Linked DNA regions of Homo sapiens: region 2 is linked to region 1. The links come from fine-mapping of genetic effects on gene expression. A gene starts in region 1. The other region holds a variant in brackets. All regions are shown on one strand. Distances are from middle to middle. Region 1 holds the start of HIP1 (huntingtin interacting protein 1). Region 2 has its middle 20 kb from the start of CCL26.

Region 1 (8,324 bases):
GAGAGAAATGATGCCAGCACAAGGTCACAGGAACTAGGAGAGGTCACCAGCCCTGCTATAGTTCAGAGGAGGGAGTGGCCAATTTTGCCTCTCTGTCTACCCCAGCCAATGAGTCTCCACTGCACCCGCTGGGAAGTTTATCTGCCTAGTCTAGATGTCTCTTTATTTATGTTCTTCTGTCACTGGAATGCCCCATCCCCTCCTCCACCCAGCAAGCACTAACTCATGCTACAAGATGTGCTTCAGTCCTCGGGGAGGGCTCCCAACCCCAAAGCCTGTGCTTTATCCACGTGCTCTTGGTAATTATCCCATTACCTAGTACCACATCTATCCCTCTAAGGAAGAGTTAATCACAGCCTGCTTGATTGCTCACACTTCTGCTGTCTCGGGTTCGTCTCCCCAGTCAGATTATAACAATAATCACTGAACTAGTGCTCCACAGTTTACAAAATGCCTTCAGGCATATTGGGCTTAATTGAATCCCCACAATAAATCAGCCAGGTAAGTATTATGTTTATTTGACAATAAGGAAACCGAGGCTTAGAAAGGTTAGACAACTTCCCAGAGACCACAAGGCCCATGTACATGCCCAGCTGTAAGCCTCAAATGCCTTCTAACTCCAATGCCAGCATCTGCTCAGTACTCAGAGGCTGCCTGAGGCAGTGGGTAAAGGTTGAGACCGTTTCCAGCTGTGTGACTTCTGGTGAGTTACTTAACCTCTCTGTGCCTCAATCGTCCTGAGAGTAAAATGTGGCTGATACCCACCTCATCCGTTCTTGTCAAGATTTAAAAAGGTAATACAATGATGTCCTTAGAATACTGCCAAACACAATAATTAGTTAGTTATTATTATACCTTGGCTGATTCTCATGGTCTCCTAACTCATTAAATTTTTTCTAATTCATTTTTTATATCTCATAATACATTCTTCCCCTTTTTTCCCTTTGCTTACCAAGCTCTGCAACCTCATAATACATTTGATAGGTAGTCATTAAACAAAATAATTTTTTTGCAGATTGACTAACGTTGGGTTTAGGGCTGTTCTCTTTTCTTTTCTTTTCTTTTTCTTTTTCTTTTTTTTTTATTTGAGATGGGGTCTCACTCTGTTGCCCAGGCCGGAATGCAGTGGCACAATCTTTGCTCACTGCAACCTCTGCCTCCCGGGCTCAAGCAATCCTCCCACCTCAACCTCCAAAGTTACTGGGACAACAGGCACGTGATACCACAACCAGCTAATTTTATTTTTTGTAGAGATGGGGTCTTACTATGTTGTCCAGGCTGGTTCTTTTTCTTTACTCTCCTACACCCCTAAAGAGTTTCAACACCAGAGGCTGGGTGCAGTGGCTCACACCTGAAATCCCAGCACTTTGGGAGGCTGAGGTGGGAAGATCGCTTGAGGCTAGTTCAAGACCAGCCTGGGAAAACACAGTGAGACCTCCGTCTTAAAAAAAAAAAAAGTTAAAAATAAGAGTTTCAACATCAGAAAAATTCTCTTTTTCTGCTCCACTCTACTTCACCCCCACCCACCCCACCCAGGTCAAATCTGGCCAATCACAAATGTCCCACAGAATGTAAAACACCAGAAAACACTGACCTAGACTCTCCTGTTGGGCCGTCCCTGGATAGCAGGGAAACATACCACTCACGGGTGGAAACTTTCACAAACCTAATTTCTATCACTATTATGGGTCAAAGTCTTACGCATATTTCTCTATTGCTCTAGTTTTTACTTATTTGAGACTCTAGAAGGAACGGGTTGTTAAAAAATAATATCTATTTATTTTCTTATTTCATTTATTAAAAAAAAAAATAGGGCTGGGTGCCATGGCTCATGCCTGTAGTCCCAGCACTTTGGGAGGCAGAAGCAGAAGAATCACTTGACGCCAGGAGTTTGAGACCAGTCCGGGCAACACAGTGAGACCCCCATCTCTATGAAAATATAAAAATAAAAGGAATATACACACTGTTTCATGGAGCAAGAAGCCTCATGTAACTAGGCAGCTAGCAGAGGCACTAACATCCAAGACCAATGGAAAACTTCCTTCTTTTCAGGGGTCGGGTCCATGAAACCAGAGAACAAGCCTCAAACCTAGCTGGATCCTGGGAGGCAGAAGTGAAATGACCATTTCCCACTTCCCTCCTGGGGTAGGATAACCAGGTAGAGAAGACTCCCTGCTTCACACCATCCAGACACACCTGCATGGAGGCACTTTCTTTTTTTCTTTTTCTTTTTTTTTTTTGTAGAGACAGGGTCCCACTGCTTCACACTATCCAGACACACCTGCGCGCGGTTTTCTTTCTTTTTTTCACTTTTTTGTAGAGATAGAGTCTCACTCTGTCACCCAGGCTGGAGTGCAGTGGCACGATCATAGCCCACTGCAGCCTCAGCCTCCTGGCTCAAGTGACCCTCATGCCTCAGCCTCTCAAACAGCTGGGACTATAGGTGTATGCCACCACACGAGGATAATTTTAAAATTTTTTCAAAATAGAGGCGGGATCTCAGTGTGTTGTCTAGGCAGGTATCGAACTCCTGGGATCAAGTGATCCTCCCACCTTGGCCTCCCAAAGTACGGGGATTACAGGTGTGAGCTAATGCACCCAGCCTAATTTTTTTATTTTTTGTAGAGACAGGGTCGCACTATGTTGCCCAGGTGGGGGGCCAAAGGTTTTCAGAATAAGAAGAGGGGATGAAGTCCTCTGGGGGTGAAAAGCTTTATTCTTTTTTATTATTATTATTTTGAGACGGAGTTTCGCTCTTGTTGCCCAGGCTGGAGTGCAGTGGCGCCATCTCGGCTCACTGCAACCTTCACCTCCCAGATTCAAGCAATTCTGCTGGCCTCAGCCTCCCAAGTAGCTGGGATTACAAGCGTCTGCAACCACGCCCAGCTAATTTTTTGTATTTTTAGTAGAGACAGGGTTTCACCATGTTGGCCAGGCTGGTCTCAAACTCCTGACGTCAGGTGATCCACCCGCCTCGGCCTCCCAAAGTGCTGGGATTACAGGTGTGAGGTACCGCGCCCGGCCAAAAGCTCTATTCTTTGAAAGATTCCATATACAGAACCTTCAGTCAGATTCTCACTGTCTTTTCTAACTAAAATCCCAAAGCCCTTTCCCTCCAACTGTGTTTGGGGGAAGTATTCCTCGCATAACACATCAGGGGACCAGCCTCTGGAGAGGGGGACCCAAATGGATCTTCAAAGGTTCCACTCTGAGCACAAGAGTGTAGAAGAAATCTGCCCCTCCAGCATTGGCACTGGGATTAAAAGAAGCGTTGTACTCTTTGAAATGGATTTTACATACAAATGAATTGATGAACACCATCAACATGTCAGCTTAATTCAGCCCAATCAATACACCAGGCATTAAAAACTCGGAGAAAAAAATGGATTGTGGCTTTTTGTTGATGACACTGAGGAATTTTGGCCCCAAGCCCTGGCCAGGCAGGACAAATAGGGCAGTCTGCCTATTAGCTGTCAGGCACATCTTGGGGGATAAAACCAAGACCCCAAGTCAGGGCTCAGGGGCACCATGGTCTCCACTTTAGCCCCCAAAGTAATTTTCCCACAAAGTGGCCACACTTTGCATTTCCTACATTCCTTTTCCCTGCTCCGACCCCTTCCGCCCGGCCTCAGAGCTGACAGCTGGGGCTGGCCAGAGCCAAGCAAGAGGCATCGAGAAAGGGGGATGCTAAGGGGTGGGGGGTGGGAAGGGATGTCAATGCAACCAAGAAGTGATCGGAGGGGAAGAGAGGTCCCCTCACCCTTCACATTCCCAGCCCGGCGCCCCCACTCTCCGCCCCCACACTTGAGCCTCCAAGTGGCTCCCGTGCGCTTCCCTTGTTTAGGGGCAACCCTTCCATTCCGCCCCTTTTCAGTTCCTTCCCCTCTCACCTCATCTTGGGACTCCTGCCCGGTACCCAGCCGATCAGGCTCCTCTTGGCCACGCATCCTGCCATCTCCTCCGAGCCCGCCTCTGCCCTTCTCCCCAGGCCAGCTGGGGTACCCTGGGGTCCCCGACCTTCCTGGGATCGCCCAGATCTGCACGTCAATGCCCCCGCTCACTACACCCTCGCCCCGTCTTCAACTGGGGCCTGCAAGACTCCTACTCCCTTCAAAGCCCCTCCCGGACACCGCGTCCCTCAGGGTGCCCCAGGGATGCCCCGGGGTCCCCCGTCCTCACCTGAGTCCGCTCGAAGCTCTCGCGCTCCGCCGCCTCCAGCCCAGCGCCGACCCCGCGCCGGCTCAGCACCTTGGGCAGTGGGTTGGGCACCTGCTTCATGGAGCTGGCCATCCGATCCATGTCGCCGCGAGGAGCCGAGTCAGGGGCCCTCGGCTGCCCCGGGATCCCCACGGCGCCGCCCGCCCCGCCCTACCCGCGGGGATCCGGCGCTAACGGGACGGCTCCCGCCTGCCATTGGCTGTGAGTTCTGCCAGTCTTCCAGAGACCCCGCCCCTCGCCGAACGGCTTCCCCGCCCGCCCCCGCCCCTTCAGGAGCCCCTCCGCTGGCTCGGCCCCGACTAGCCTCTCGGGGCCTCGAGGCGCGTGGTGACTGGTCTGGAGTCCTGTCAGTCACCGTGGTCCCGCCGTTCTAGGCAGGGCCGGGGCGGGGTGCGGACGGGGCGAGGCCTGGATGGGGCGTGGCCTGGGCGGGCTGCCCTGATATGCCCTCGCTCGCCCCGCCCCCGCCCGCGCACCGCCCTCTCCTCCCCTCGGCCGCAGTCCCCGCGCGCCCCGAGCGTGCTGCCCTCCGCCAAGCGCCGCCCACTACCCTGCCCGCTCCTGCAGGGGGCTATCCCGCGACGGCCCGTGGAGATGGGCGGGGATGACGCGGGCCGGGCAGTGGGGCCTCCCCCGGGGGAATCCCAGCCCGCCTGCGAATAGCCCGTTAGCTCCTTCCGGGCCTGGGACCCGGGAGCGCCGGACTGACCAGCCCTGCGGCCGCAGCCCGGGAAAGCGCAGCCCCGCGGGCGGGGCGCAGCGTGGGCGCCTGGCCGGATCCGGCTCAATGGGTGGCCGCCCCCACCCAGCTCCCAGGCTTCCCCGTCCTGCACTTCTCCATTCTGCCCCTGCCCATGCCCTCTGCAAGGATCGCAGAGCCCAGGTCCCGGAGTTCGGGGCTGAGTCCGCGGGCACCTCCCGGGACCTGCCTCCCAAACCTCATCAAAGGAACCCGTCAGAGCTTATTTGTTGGTAGAAAGCCCTGTAGACACTTTCGGTTTATCTTAGGCTCTGAGCCGCGCGTCCCATCCTGCTCAGACGTCAGCCAGGGTACCAGCAAGCAGAGAGAAGTGTGATGCTTAGCAGGAGTGCTGGAGAAAGTTAAAAGTTTTCCGTTAAACTCCAATTTAGGTGTGTTTTTGTTTTTGTTTTTGTTTGTTTTTTTTTTTTTTTTTGGTTTCATTTGGAGTCAGTCTCCCTCTGTCGCCCAGGCTGGAGTGCAGATCGTAACACACTGGGACCTTGAGCTCCTGGGTCCTAGCGATTTTCCTGCCTCGGCCTCTCGAGTAGCTGGGACTACAGATGCACGCCACCAAGCCTGGCTATCTTTTTTGCAGAGATGGAGTCTTTCTATGTTGCCCAGACTGGTCTCGAACTCGTGGCCTCAAGCAAGCCTCCCACCTTGGCCTCCCAAAGTACTGTGATTACAGACATGAGCTACAGCACCCGGCATAGATGTATTTTTTAAAAGTTATTTGAAACTCGGAGTAATGAATGGCACCTTTAGGCCTAACAATTTGGTGATTCGTGTGTGTGTGTGTGTGTGTGTGTGTGTTGTAAATTTGGCCAGGTGCGGTGGCTTACACCTGTAATCTCAGCGCTTTGGGAGGCTGAGGCAGGCGGATCGTTTGAGCTCTGAACTTTGAAACCAGCCTGGGCAACATAGCAAGACTCCATCTGTACAAAAAATTTTAAAATTAGCTGGGCGTGGTGGTGCAAGCCTGTAGTCCCAGCTACTCACAAGGCGGGAGGATTACTTGAGCCAGGGAGGCAGAGGTTGCAGTGAGCAGAGATCGCGCCACTGCACTCCAGCCTGGGAGACAGAGCGAGACCCCGTCTCAAAAAAATATATACATATTTCTTTGTAGTGAGGGGTATGTTGCTGGATTGCCCAGGCTGGTCATGATCTCCTGGGCTCAAATGATCCTACCACCTCAGCCTCCCAAAGCACTGGGATTACAGGTGTGAGCCACCCTGCCCTGCCTGTTTTTTTTTTGTTTTTGTTTTTATTTTTTTTAATAAGAGCGTTTGGTAAAAATTCACACATTCAATAGAGAAGTGAAAGAGGGGTGGGCATTTGCGGTTACTAAGGAGCCACTGAAGACTTTTGCTCAGATGTGTGCACTGAGGAGCTTGTATTGTGGGGATGGATTATGGGGGCCTGATGGAAGGGAGGAAATCAGTGGGGAGACTCTAGCGTAGATGAGAGATGATGAGGGCCTAGAAGAGAAGGGAGAGGAGGAAGTTCTGTCCCGTGGGAGGTTACGCAAATAAGGCTTGGACACAGGGATTGGGGGATGGGCAATGGCGGTGCCATTCAGGCTACATTTGCATAGGAAGGACTGGACTGGTTTCACCTTTACTTAAATTGTGTTTCTGTGGGAGGCTTTGGGAGTGCCCCCTCCCTTGTGTTGCTTTGGGAGAGATTAGATGTCACCTGATTTTTCATGTCTAGGGAGAGGGAGATGACAACTGAGCGTGGGAGCACGGTAGGGGCGCTGACAGAGGAAGAGGAAATTACCTTGGCCGGGCACCGTGGCTCACACCTGTAATCCCAGCACTTTGGGAGGTCGAGGCGGGCAGATCACTTGAGGCCAGGAGTTCAAAATCAGCCTGGCCAACATGGTGAAATTCTGTCTCTACTAAAAAATACAAAAAAGTAGCCAGGTGTGGTGGCATGTGCCTGTAATCCCAGCTACTCGAGAAGCTGAGGCTGGAGAATCACTTGAGCCTGGGAGGCGAAGGCTGCAGTGAGCTGAGATCGCACCAGTGAACTCCAGCCTGCATGACAGAGTGAAACTCTATCTCCAAAAAGCAAAAAACAAAAAACAAACAAACAAAAATCTCAATTTTTAAAAAACATTTATTTATTTAGAGATAGGGTGTAGTGACTTCCTGCTGTTCCAGCAAATCCTGGTGCTTTGCCAATTTACCCGTCCTGGTTGATTCCCCTAACTCAGGTCACACCTTTGTACATAGTTTCTTCCTTTTTTTTTTTTAAGAGACAGACTCTCGCTCTGTTGCCCAGGCTGGAGTGCAGTGTCGCAATCTCAGCTCACTGCAGGCTCTGCCTCCCAGGTTCAAGTTATTCTCCTGCCTCAGCCTCCCAAGTAGCTGGGATTACAGGTGTATGCCACCATGCCCGGCCAATTTTTGTATTGTTAGTACAGACAGAGTTCCACCATGTTGGCCAGGCTGGTCTCGAACTCCTGACCTCAAGTGATCTGCCCGCCTCAGCCTCCCAAAGTGCTGGGATTACAGGCATGAGCCACCATGCCCATCCATGTCTGGCTAATTTTTAAAAAATTTTTTGTGGCCGTGCCACAGTGGCTCATGCCTGTAATCCCAGCACTTTGTGAGGCCAAGGCAGGCAGCTCACTTGAGGCCAGGAGTTCGAGACCAGCCTGGGCAACGTGGCAAAACCCCGTCTTTACTAAAAATACAAAAATTAGCAGGGTGTGATGGCACGCGCCTGTAATCCCAGCTATTTGGGAGGCTGAGGCACGAGAATCGCTTGAACCCTGGAGGTGGAGGTTGCAGTGAGCCAAGTGTGATGGTGCACACCTGTAATCCCAGCTCCTCAGGAGACTGAGACGGGAGGATCCCTTGAGCCCAGGAGGTCGAGGCTGCAGTGAGCTATGATTGCACCCCTGCACGCCAGCCTGAGAGACCGAGACCCTCTCTCAGGAAAAAGAAAGAGAAGGAACTATGTACAAAGGTGTGACCTGAGTTAAGGGAATCAACCGGGACAGGTAAAGCACCAGATATTACTGGAACACCAGGAAGCTGTTACCATCTCTAGACCTAAAGAGAAAAGGGGAGGGAGCTGTGCTGTAACCTGGTGGGGGCTCTGGTCATGGGAAAGTAGGCATTTTCCCAGAGCTGTGACCTTAGGTAGAAAACCCACAGTCACTGTGGAAAGTGGCGTGGCAGGGAGGCAGCTGGGGGATGAATACCCCAATCTCTCTCTCTCTCTTTTTTTGTTTTTTCACGACAGGGTCTCATTCTATTGCCCAGGCTGGAGTGCAGTGGCACAATCTCGGCTCACTGAAACCTCCGCCTCCCGTGTTCGAGTGATTCTCTTGCCTCAGCCTCCCAAGTAGCTG
Region 2 (8,324 bases), 53 kb after region 1:
TCTTTCGTTTAGTTTCTCAATTCATACAGAACGGCATCCGGGCCTTCACCAATCGTTTTATATGACAAATGCTCTTTTTAACAACCCCACAATATCGCCCCTTACCACAAAAATCTTCCTTCAACTTAATCTCTCCCACTCTAGGTTCCCATGCCGCCCCTAATCCTTCTCGAAGCAGCCCTGAGAAATATCGCCCATTATCTCTCCATACCACCCCCAAAAATTTTCGCCGCCCCAATACTTTACCACTATTTCGTTTTATTTTTCTTATTAATATAAGAAGACAGGAATGTCAGGCCTCTGAGCCCAAGCTAAGCCGTCGTATCCCCCAGTGACCTGCACGTATACATCCAGATGGCCTGAAGTAACTGAAGAATCACAAAAGAAGTGAAAATGGCCTGTTCTTGCCTTAATTGATGACATTACCTTGTGAAATTCCTTCTCCTGGCTCATCCTGGCTCAAAAGCTCCCCCACTGAGCACCTTGTGTCCCTCACCCCTGCCCGCCAGAGAACAACCCCTTTTGACTGTAATTTTCCATTACCTACCCAAATCCTATAAAACGGCCCCACCCCTATCTCCCTTGGCTGACTCTCTTTTTGGACTCAGCCCGCCTGCACCCAGGTGACTAAAAAGCTTTATTGCTCACACAAAGCCTGTTTGGTGGTCTCTTCACATGGACGCGAGTGAAACCCATCTCTACTAAAAGTACTAACATTAGCCAGGTGTGGTGGTGTGCGTCTGTAATCCCAGCTACTCAGGAGAATCCCTTGAACTCGGGAGGTGGAGATTGCAGTGAGCCAAGATCACACCACTGCACTCTAGTCTGGGCGACAGAGCAAGACTCCGTCCAAAAAAAAAAAAAGAAGAAAAAAAAAGATGGGAGTCAGAAGAGTGGTCACCCTTTGGGGCAACTGACTTAAAGCGGTTTCAAGGGGGCGTTCTGGGGGCTGGTATGCTCTGTTCCTTTATCTGGGTGCTGGTTCACCTTTTAACCCTTGTGGAAATTCTTTGAGTTGTACTCTTAGAGTTTGCATACCTTTCTTTTCTCTTTTTCTTGTTTTTTAAGATAGGATCTCACTCTGTCACCCAGGCTGGAGTGCAGTGATGCTGTCATAGCTCACTGCAGCCTCAACTTTCCAAGGCTCAAGGGATTCTCCCTCCTTAGCCACCCGAGTAGCCAGGACTACAGGTGCGCACCACCGTGCCCAGTTCATTTTTTGATTTTTTTTTTTTTTTTTGTAGAGATGTGGCGGGCGGGGGGGTCTCTCTGTGTTGCCCAGGCTGGTCTCAAACTCCTGGCCTCAAGTGATCCTCCTGCCTCAGCCTCCCAAAGTGCTGGGATTATAGGTGCCAGCCACCGTGCCTGGCCTGCGTACTTTTCTATATGTATATTATATTTCAATAAATTAGTAAAGAGGAATGAAATGATATGGCGAATAAACAAAACAAATAATTCTGCAGTTAAGGAAATGTAATATGGGAGCCATGGCCTCCCTACGTTCTCTCCCTCCTTCCTTGAGATGAGAATATTTCTCTCTCTCTCTCTCTTTGCCACTCTTCTGGGAACATCCATTTCTCTTTTTCTCTTTTTTTTTTTTTTTTGCCAGAATGTTTCTCATTTCAAGAGAAAGTGCTGGCTGCCTACAGCATGTCAGACCCCAGCTGTTTTCCATACTTCTGCCTTTCCCTGCCTTTGGCAATGGAGTCTATCCTCTGAAAATTCTCTTCTGCAATGAGAAACCCCCACACTTTGCCCCCCTCCCCACCACCAAACAAGGCCCATTACTTCCTTCCAAACCCCAACCTGGCAGGTTCCCAGAAACAAAGTCCCTGACCCTTACCTGGGGTCTTTGGCTCAGCCTCAATTCCAGACTCCTGGCTCATCCTCCAGAGCTTGCTAGTGCTGCTCCAGTCCCTGGGATCTGCGGTACCCCTGGGACCCCAAGTCAAGACCTCCTCTTGGCTTACGTAAGGACATTTACAAACAGCCATTCCCAAATAACTCACATTTCTGAGGTTCTGGGTGGACAATGAATTCTTGGGGTATATTATTCAACCCAGTACAGATGTATTGCAGAAATAATCTCCCATCCCACAGATTGCCTTTCTACGTCTTACGGTTCTCCCTCCCTCCCTCCCTCCCTTCCTTCCTTCCTTCCCTCCATTCCTCCCTACCTCTCTTTCTTTCTTTCCCTTCTTTTCTTCCTTCTTCCCCAGCTCTCTCCCTCCTTTTCTCTTTCTTTTTCTTTCTTTCTTTCTCTCTCTCTCTTTCTGTCTCTCTCCCTTCCTTCCTTCCTTCCTTCCTTTCTTTCTTTCTTTCTTTCTTTCTTTCTTTCTTTCTTTCTTCCTTCCTTCCTTCCTTCCATCCTCCCTCCCTCCCTCCCTCCATACCTCTTTCTCTCTCTTTCTTTTCTTTTTCTTTTCTTTGCAGTGGTGCAATCATAGCTCCCTGCAACCTCAAGATCCTGGGCTCAAGCAGTCCTCCCACCTCAGCCTTCTGAGTAGCTGGAACTACAGGCATGCACCACCATGTTCTGCTAACTTAAAAAAAAAATTGTAGAGATGGGGTCTTGCTGTGTTGCCCAGGCTGGTCTTGAATTCCTGGCCTCAATCTCCTGGACTTAAGTGATCCTCCCACCTCAGCCTCCCAAAGTGCTAGGATTACAGGCAGGAGCTGCTGTGCCTGGCCTCTTATGGATGTCTTCTAATGGATTTTAATATAGTTTTATTTATCAGCTTTCCTCCTGTATGGGTAAGTGATTATACCCTGTTTATAAAACATTTGAGGCTGGACATGGTGGCTCACACCAGTAATCCCAGCACTGTGGGAGGCCGAGGCAGGCAGATCACTGGAGGTCAGGAGTTCAAGACCAACCTGGCCAATGTGGTGAAATCCCGTCTCTATTAAAAATACAAAAATTAGCCAGGTGTGATAGTGAGTGCCTGTAGTCTCAGCTACTCGGGAGGCTGAGGCAGGAGAATAGCTTGAGTTTGGAAGGTGGAGTTTGCAGTGAGCCAAGATTACGCCACTGCACTCCGGCCTGGGCGATAGAGACTCCATTTCAAAAAAAAAAAAATTTGAGTCCCTTCACCCAAGAGGCATGTCTGTCTATAAATGGCTTCTGCTGAAACTCCTCCTTTTTTTTTTTTTTTTCTTTTTTTCTTTTTGAGACAGAGTCTTGCTCTTGTCACGCAGGCTGGAGTGCAATGGCACGATCTCGGCTCACTGCAACTTCTGCCTCCCGGGTTCAAGCAATTCTCCTGCCTCAGCCTCCCGAGTAGCTGGGATTACAGGCACCCGCCACCACACCTGGCTAATTTTTGTATTTTTAGTAGAGACAAGGTTTTGTCATGTTGGCCAGGCTGGTCTCAAACTCCTGGCCTCGTGATCCACCCGCCTCAGCTCCCAAAGGGCTGGGATTACAGGTGTGAGCCACCACGCCTGGCTGAAACTCCCTCTTGGTACTTGTGTCCGAGGCCCCCTCAGTCAGGACCTTGAGTATGCCCTTGATGTCAGCCCATAGCTGGCGGCCCTGGCTCCTGCTCTCTTCCCTCCAGGCCCTTCCCTGTGGCTGAAGCCCCTTCCCTGTACCCTCCAGGTTGCTTCCTGGGCTCCAGATTCCTCTGTGTGGATCTCCCAGGAGCCCCCATCTGCTGTGGTTCCCAGGGTCTAGGCTGCCATCTGGGCTTCCCACTTCTCGGCCTCTCAAAGTGCTGGGATTACAGGCGTGAGCTGCTGTGCCAGGCTGTAAGTTTTAATGAGGTCATAAGGATGGGACTCTGATCCAACATGACAGATGTCCTTATAAGAAAAGAAGCCAGGCCTGGGTGACTCATGCCTGTAATCCCAGCACTCCCAGGCGGGAGGATTGCTTCAGCCCAGAAGTTCAACAAGTAAGTAAGGTTTTTTTTCCATCCTTTTTTTGTTTTGAGACAGGGTCTCACTCTGTCACCGACGCTGGAGTGCAGAGGTGTGATCACAGCTCACGGCAGCCTCCACCTCCCCAAGCTCAAGTGATTCTCCCACCTCACCCTCCCAAGCAGCTGGGACCACAGGCATGCACCACCACACCTGGCTACTTTGTTTTTATTTTTATTTATTTATTTAGAGACAGAGTCTTGCTGTGTTACCCAGGCATGTTACCCACGATTTCAGCTCACTGCAGCCTCTGCCTCCTCTGGCTCAAGCAATCCTCTTACCTCAGTCTCCCGAGTAGCTGGGACTACAGGCATGCGCCACCACACCCAGATACTTTCTGTATTTTTAGCAGAGATGGGGTTTCACCGCGTTGGCCAGGCTGGTCTCAAACTCCTGACCTCAGGTGATCCACCCACTTCGGCCTCCCAAAGTGCTGGGATTACAGGCGTGAGCCGCCATGCCTGGCTGTAAGTTTTAATGAGGTCATAAGGATGGGACTCTGATCCAATATGACAGGTGTCCTTATAAGAAAAGAAGCCACCAGGCATGGGTGACTCATGCCTGTAATCCCAGCACTCCCAGGTGGGAGGATTGCTTCAGCCCAGAAGTTCAAGACCAGCCTGGTCAACATAGTGAGATCCCATCTCTATAAAAAATAAAAATTAGCCAGACATAGTGGCGCACGCCTGTAGTCCCAGCTACTCAAGAGGCTCAAGCGGGAGGCTCCCTTGAGCCCAGGAGTTTGAAATCAGTCTGGGCAATGTAGTGAGACCCTATCTCTACATAAAATACAAAAATTAGCCGGGCGTGGTGGCACATGCCTGTAGTGCCAGCTACTTGGGAGGCCGAGGCAGGAGGATTGCTGGAGCCCAGGAGTTCAAGGCTGCAGTGAGCTGTGGTCACACCACTGCACTCCAGCCTGAGCAACAGAGCAAGACCCCTATCTCAAATAAATAAATAAATAAATAAATAAATAAATAAATAAATAAATAAATAAGTGTAACAGGGAGAGAGTAAAGAGGTTTTGTTTTGTTTTTTGTTTTTT[T/G]TTTTTTTAGATGGAGTCTTGCTCTGTCACCCAGGCTAGAGTGCAATGGTGCGATCTTGGATCACTGCAACCTCTGCCTCCCGGCTTTAAGCAATTCTCCTGTCTCAGCCTCCCAAGTAGCTGGGACTATAGGTGCCCACCACCATGCCCGGCTAATTTTTGTATTTTTAGTAGAGATGGGGTTTCACCATGTTGGCCAGGCTGGTCTGGAACTCCTGACTTCAAGTGATCTGCCTGCCTTGGCCTCCCAAAGTGCTGGAATTACAGGCATGGGCCACCGGGCCCGGCCAACAGTAAGGAGTTTTAAGCAGGGGAGTCACACGATGAGAGGACTCATTGATAAAGATGAGTCTGGCTGCTGTAAGGACACAATACTAGAGAGGGACAGAGGGATGTGGAGGCCCAGCATGAAGCCTCCTTTTGTCTCCATAACCCTTCAGCACAGGGTTCTGGAATGTATTTATGTGGCAAATGTTTGCTCGTTCTTTTTTTCTTTTTTTTGAGATGGAGTCTCGCTCTGTCAGGTTGGAGTGCAGGTCGGCTCACTGCAACCTCCACCTCCTGGGTTCAAGCAATTCTCCTGCCTCAGCCTCCCGAGTAGCTGGGACTATAGGTGCGCACCACCACATCCAGCTAATTTTTGTATTTTTAGTAGAGATATGGTTTCACCATGTTGACCAGACTGGTGTCAAACTGCTGACCTCAAGTGAGCTGGCCACCTCAGCCTCCCACAGTGCTGGGATTACAGGCATAAGTCACTGCATCCAGCCAAATGTTTGCTGAATTCTTACAGCCCCAGCAATGTCCAAGGCTCTGGAGACACCGTGGTGGACAGGACACCATCCCTGTCCTTAAGAAAGGTGAGTATAGAATTTGAGCATAAGTGGAGAAAGAACAAAGAGAGAAAGAAAGAGAGAGAGAGAGAGAGAGGGAGAGAGGGAGGGGAAGGGGAAGGGGAGGAAGGAAGGGGAAGGAAGAAAGGAAGAAGAAAGGAAGGAAGGGAGGAAGGGAGGGAGGGAGAGAGAGAGAAAGAAAGAAAGAAAGAAAAGAAAAGAAAAGAAAAGAAAGACAGAAAGAAATAAAGAAAAAGAAAGAAAGAAAAGAAAGCGGGCCAGGTGAGGTGGGTAACACCTGTAATCCCAGCATTTTGGAGGGCCTAGGTGGGCAGATCACTTGAAGTCAGGAGTCGAGCCCAGCCTGGGTAATATGGTGAAACCCTGTCTCTACTAAAAATAAAAAAATTAACTGGGCGTGGTGGTGCCCACCTGTAATCCCAGCTACTCGGGAGGCTGAGGCAGGAGAATCTCTTGAACCCAGCAGGCAGAGAATGCAGTGAGCCAAGATTGTGCCACTGCACTCCAGCCTGGGCGACATAGTGAGACTCTGTCAATAAAAAAAAGAAAGAAAGAAAAAGAGAGAGAGAGAGAAATAAGAGAGAAAGAGAAAGGAAGGAAGGAAGGAAGGAAGGGAGAGAAAGAGAAAGAGAGACCGCGTGCAGTGGCTCACACCTGTAATCCCAGCACTTTGGGAGGCTGAGGTGGGTGGATCCCTTGAGGTCAGGAGTTTGAGACCAGGCTGGCCAACATGGTGAAACTTGTCTGTACTAAAAATACAAAAATTAGCCAGGTGTGGTGGCACGTGCCTGTAATCCCACCTACTTGGGAGGCTGAGGCAGGAGAATTGCTTGAACCTGAGAGGCGGAGGTTGCAGTGAGCCGAGATCGCACCACTGCACTCCAGCGTGGGCAACAGAGCAAGACTCTATCTCAAACAAAAAAAAAAGAAGAAGAAAAAAGGAAAAAAAAAAAGAGAGAAGTAAGGAGTGGATGTAAAGAAACTCCCTTGTCTGCTGTCCCAGTGAGACCTACACATGGGGAGCTAGTGAGGGGAGCCAGAGGAGGCACAGTGTGTTAGGAGGGGTTCCCCAGCCCTGGGAAGCTCTTCCTGGAGGAAGCAGCATCCTGGCTTGTGTGCAACAGAGACCAAGCCGAATCAGGAGAATAAAAACATGTTTCGGCCGGGCGCCGTGGCTCACACCTGTAATCCCAGCACTTTGGGAGGCTGAGGCAGGAGGATTACTTGAGCCCAGGAGTTCAACACTAGCCTGGGCAATATAGTGGAACCCTGTCTCTACAAAATCTTAAAAATCAGCTGGGCATGGTGGCACATGTCTGTAGTCCCAGCTACTTGGGGAGCCTGAGGTGAGAGGATCGCTTGAGGCCAGGAGGTTGAAGTTGCAGTGAGACACGATCACACCACTGCACTCCAGCCTGGGTGACGGAGTGAGACCCTGTCTCAAACAAACAAACAACTAAAAAACCGTATCTCCTGGAGTTGGAAGAAAAACAAACTTTTTTGTTTGTTACCAGTTAATCCATTTACCCTGAAAGCGGTTCTAGGAGAGTGGTTTCTTTATTTCTCTTTCTTTCTTTCTTTCCTTCTTTCTTTCTCTCTCTTTCCTTCCTTCCTTCCTTCTTTCTTTCTTTCTCTCTTTCTTTTTCTATCTTTGTTTCTTGATCTCTTGCTTTCTTCTTTCTTTCTTTCTTGATCTCTTGCTTTCTTCTTTCTATCTTTCTTTCTTGCTCTCTTGCCTTCTTCTTTCTTTTTTTCTCTTTCTTTTTTTTTTTTTTGAAACAGGGTCTCCCTCTGTCACCCAGGCTGGAGTGCAGTGGTGCAATCTCGGCTCACTGCAGCCTCCAGCTCCTCGGTTCAAGCGATTCTCCTGCCTCAGCCTCCCAAGTAGCTGGGACTATAGGCATGCACTACCACGCCTGGCTAAGTTTTGTACTTTTAGTAGAGACAGGGTTTCACCATATTGCCCAGGCTGGTCTCGAACTCCTGACCTCAAGTGATCCACCTGCCTCGGCCCCCAAAAGTGCTGGGATTACAGGCATGAGCCATGACACCCGGCCTAGGGAGGTTTTCTTATCCCCTTTTACAGCCTAGAAAACTGTGGTTTGTTCAAGGCCACAAAACTCATGGATGGCAGAACCAAGGCTCAGAGCTGGGTCTGTGTCATGCCTGTGCCTTGTCCTGCCTCTGACAGTCTCAGAGTCCTACCCCCCAACCCTTAACGCTGAGAATGAACCTTCAGGGTGGCTTCCGCCAGGCTTTGTCCCGAAGCTAAAACTACTCTGTAGTTACAGGACCATATCAGAGCCAAGGGCAAATAGCAGCTAGATAGATAAGGGGAGGCATCTGCGGGTTAGCAAAAGTCAGCAAATTCCCTTCCAAACTTTCAATTGGCCAATAAAAAAAGGGAAATGCAGCCCATCCCACCAGCTTCGAGAACATAACAACGAACTGCCAGTTGCTTGGGAGAAGCGCAGCTCTTCCCCATTCTGAGTCTTGAGAGATGT

What was found. PIP is the estimated chance that this variant, and not a neighbour inherited with it, causes the effect.
Region 2: its variant is the best candidate, but not a certain one, in a credible set for the expression of HIP1 in whole blood (INTERVAL, PIP 0.82).

What each region holds. Positions count from the first base shown.
Region 1 is chr7:75,734,622-75,742,945 of GRCh38, forward strand. HIP1 (huntingtin interacting protein 1) reads right to left here and starts at 4,320. Exons shown (of 31, transcript NM_005338.7): 1 at 4,180-4,320. The coding sequence starts at 4,299. RefSeq lists a silencer at 4,108-5,097.
Region 2 is chr7:75,787,874-75,796,197 of GRCh38, forward strand. It overlaps a transcript of CCL26 not described here. Among named protein-coding and RNA genes, the nearest start is that of CCL26, 20 kb to the left of the region's middle. RefSeq lists enhancers at 1-530, 531-1,389. The variant T/G (reference allele first, on the strand shown) is at 4,967.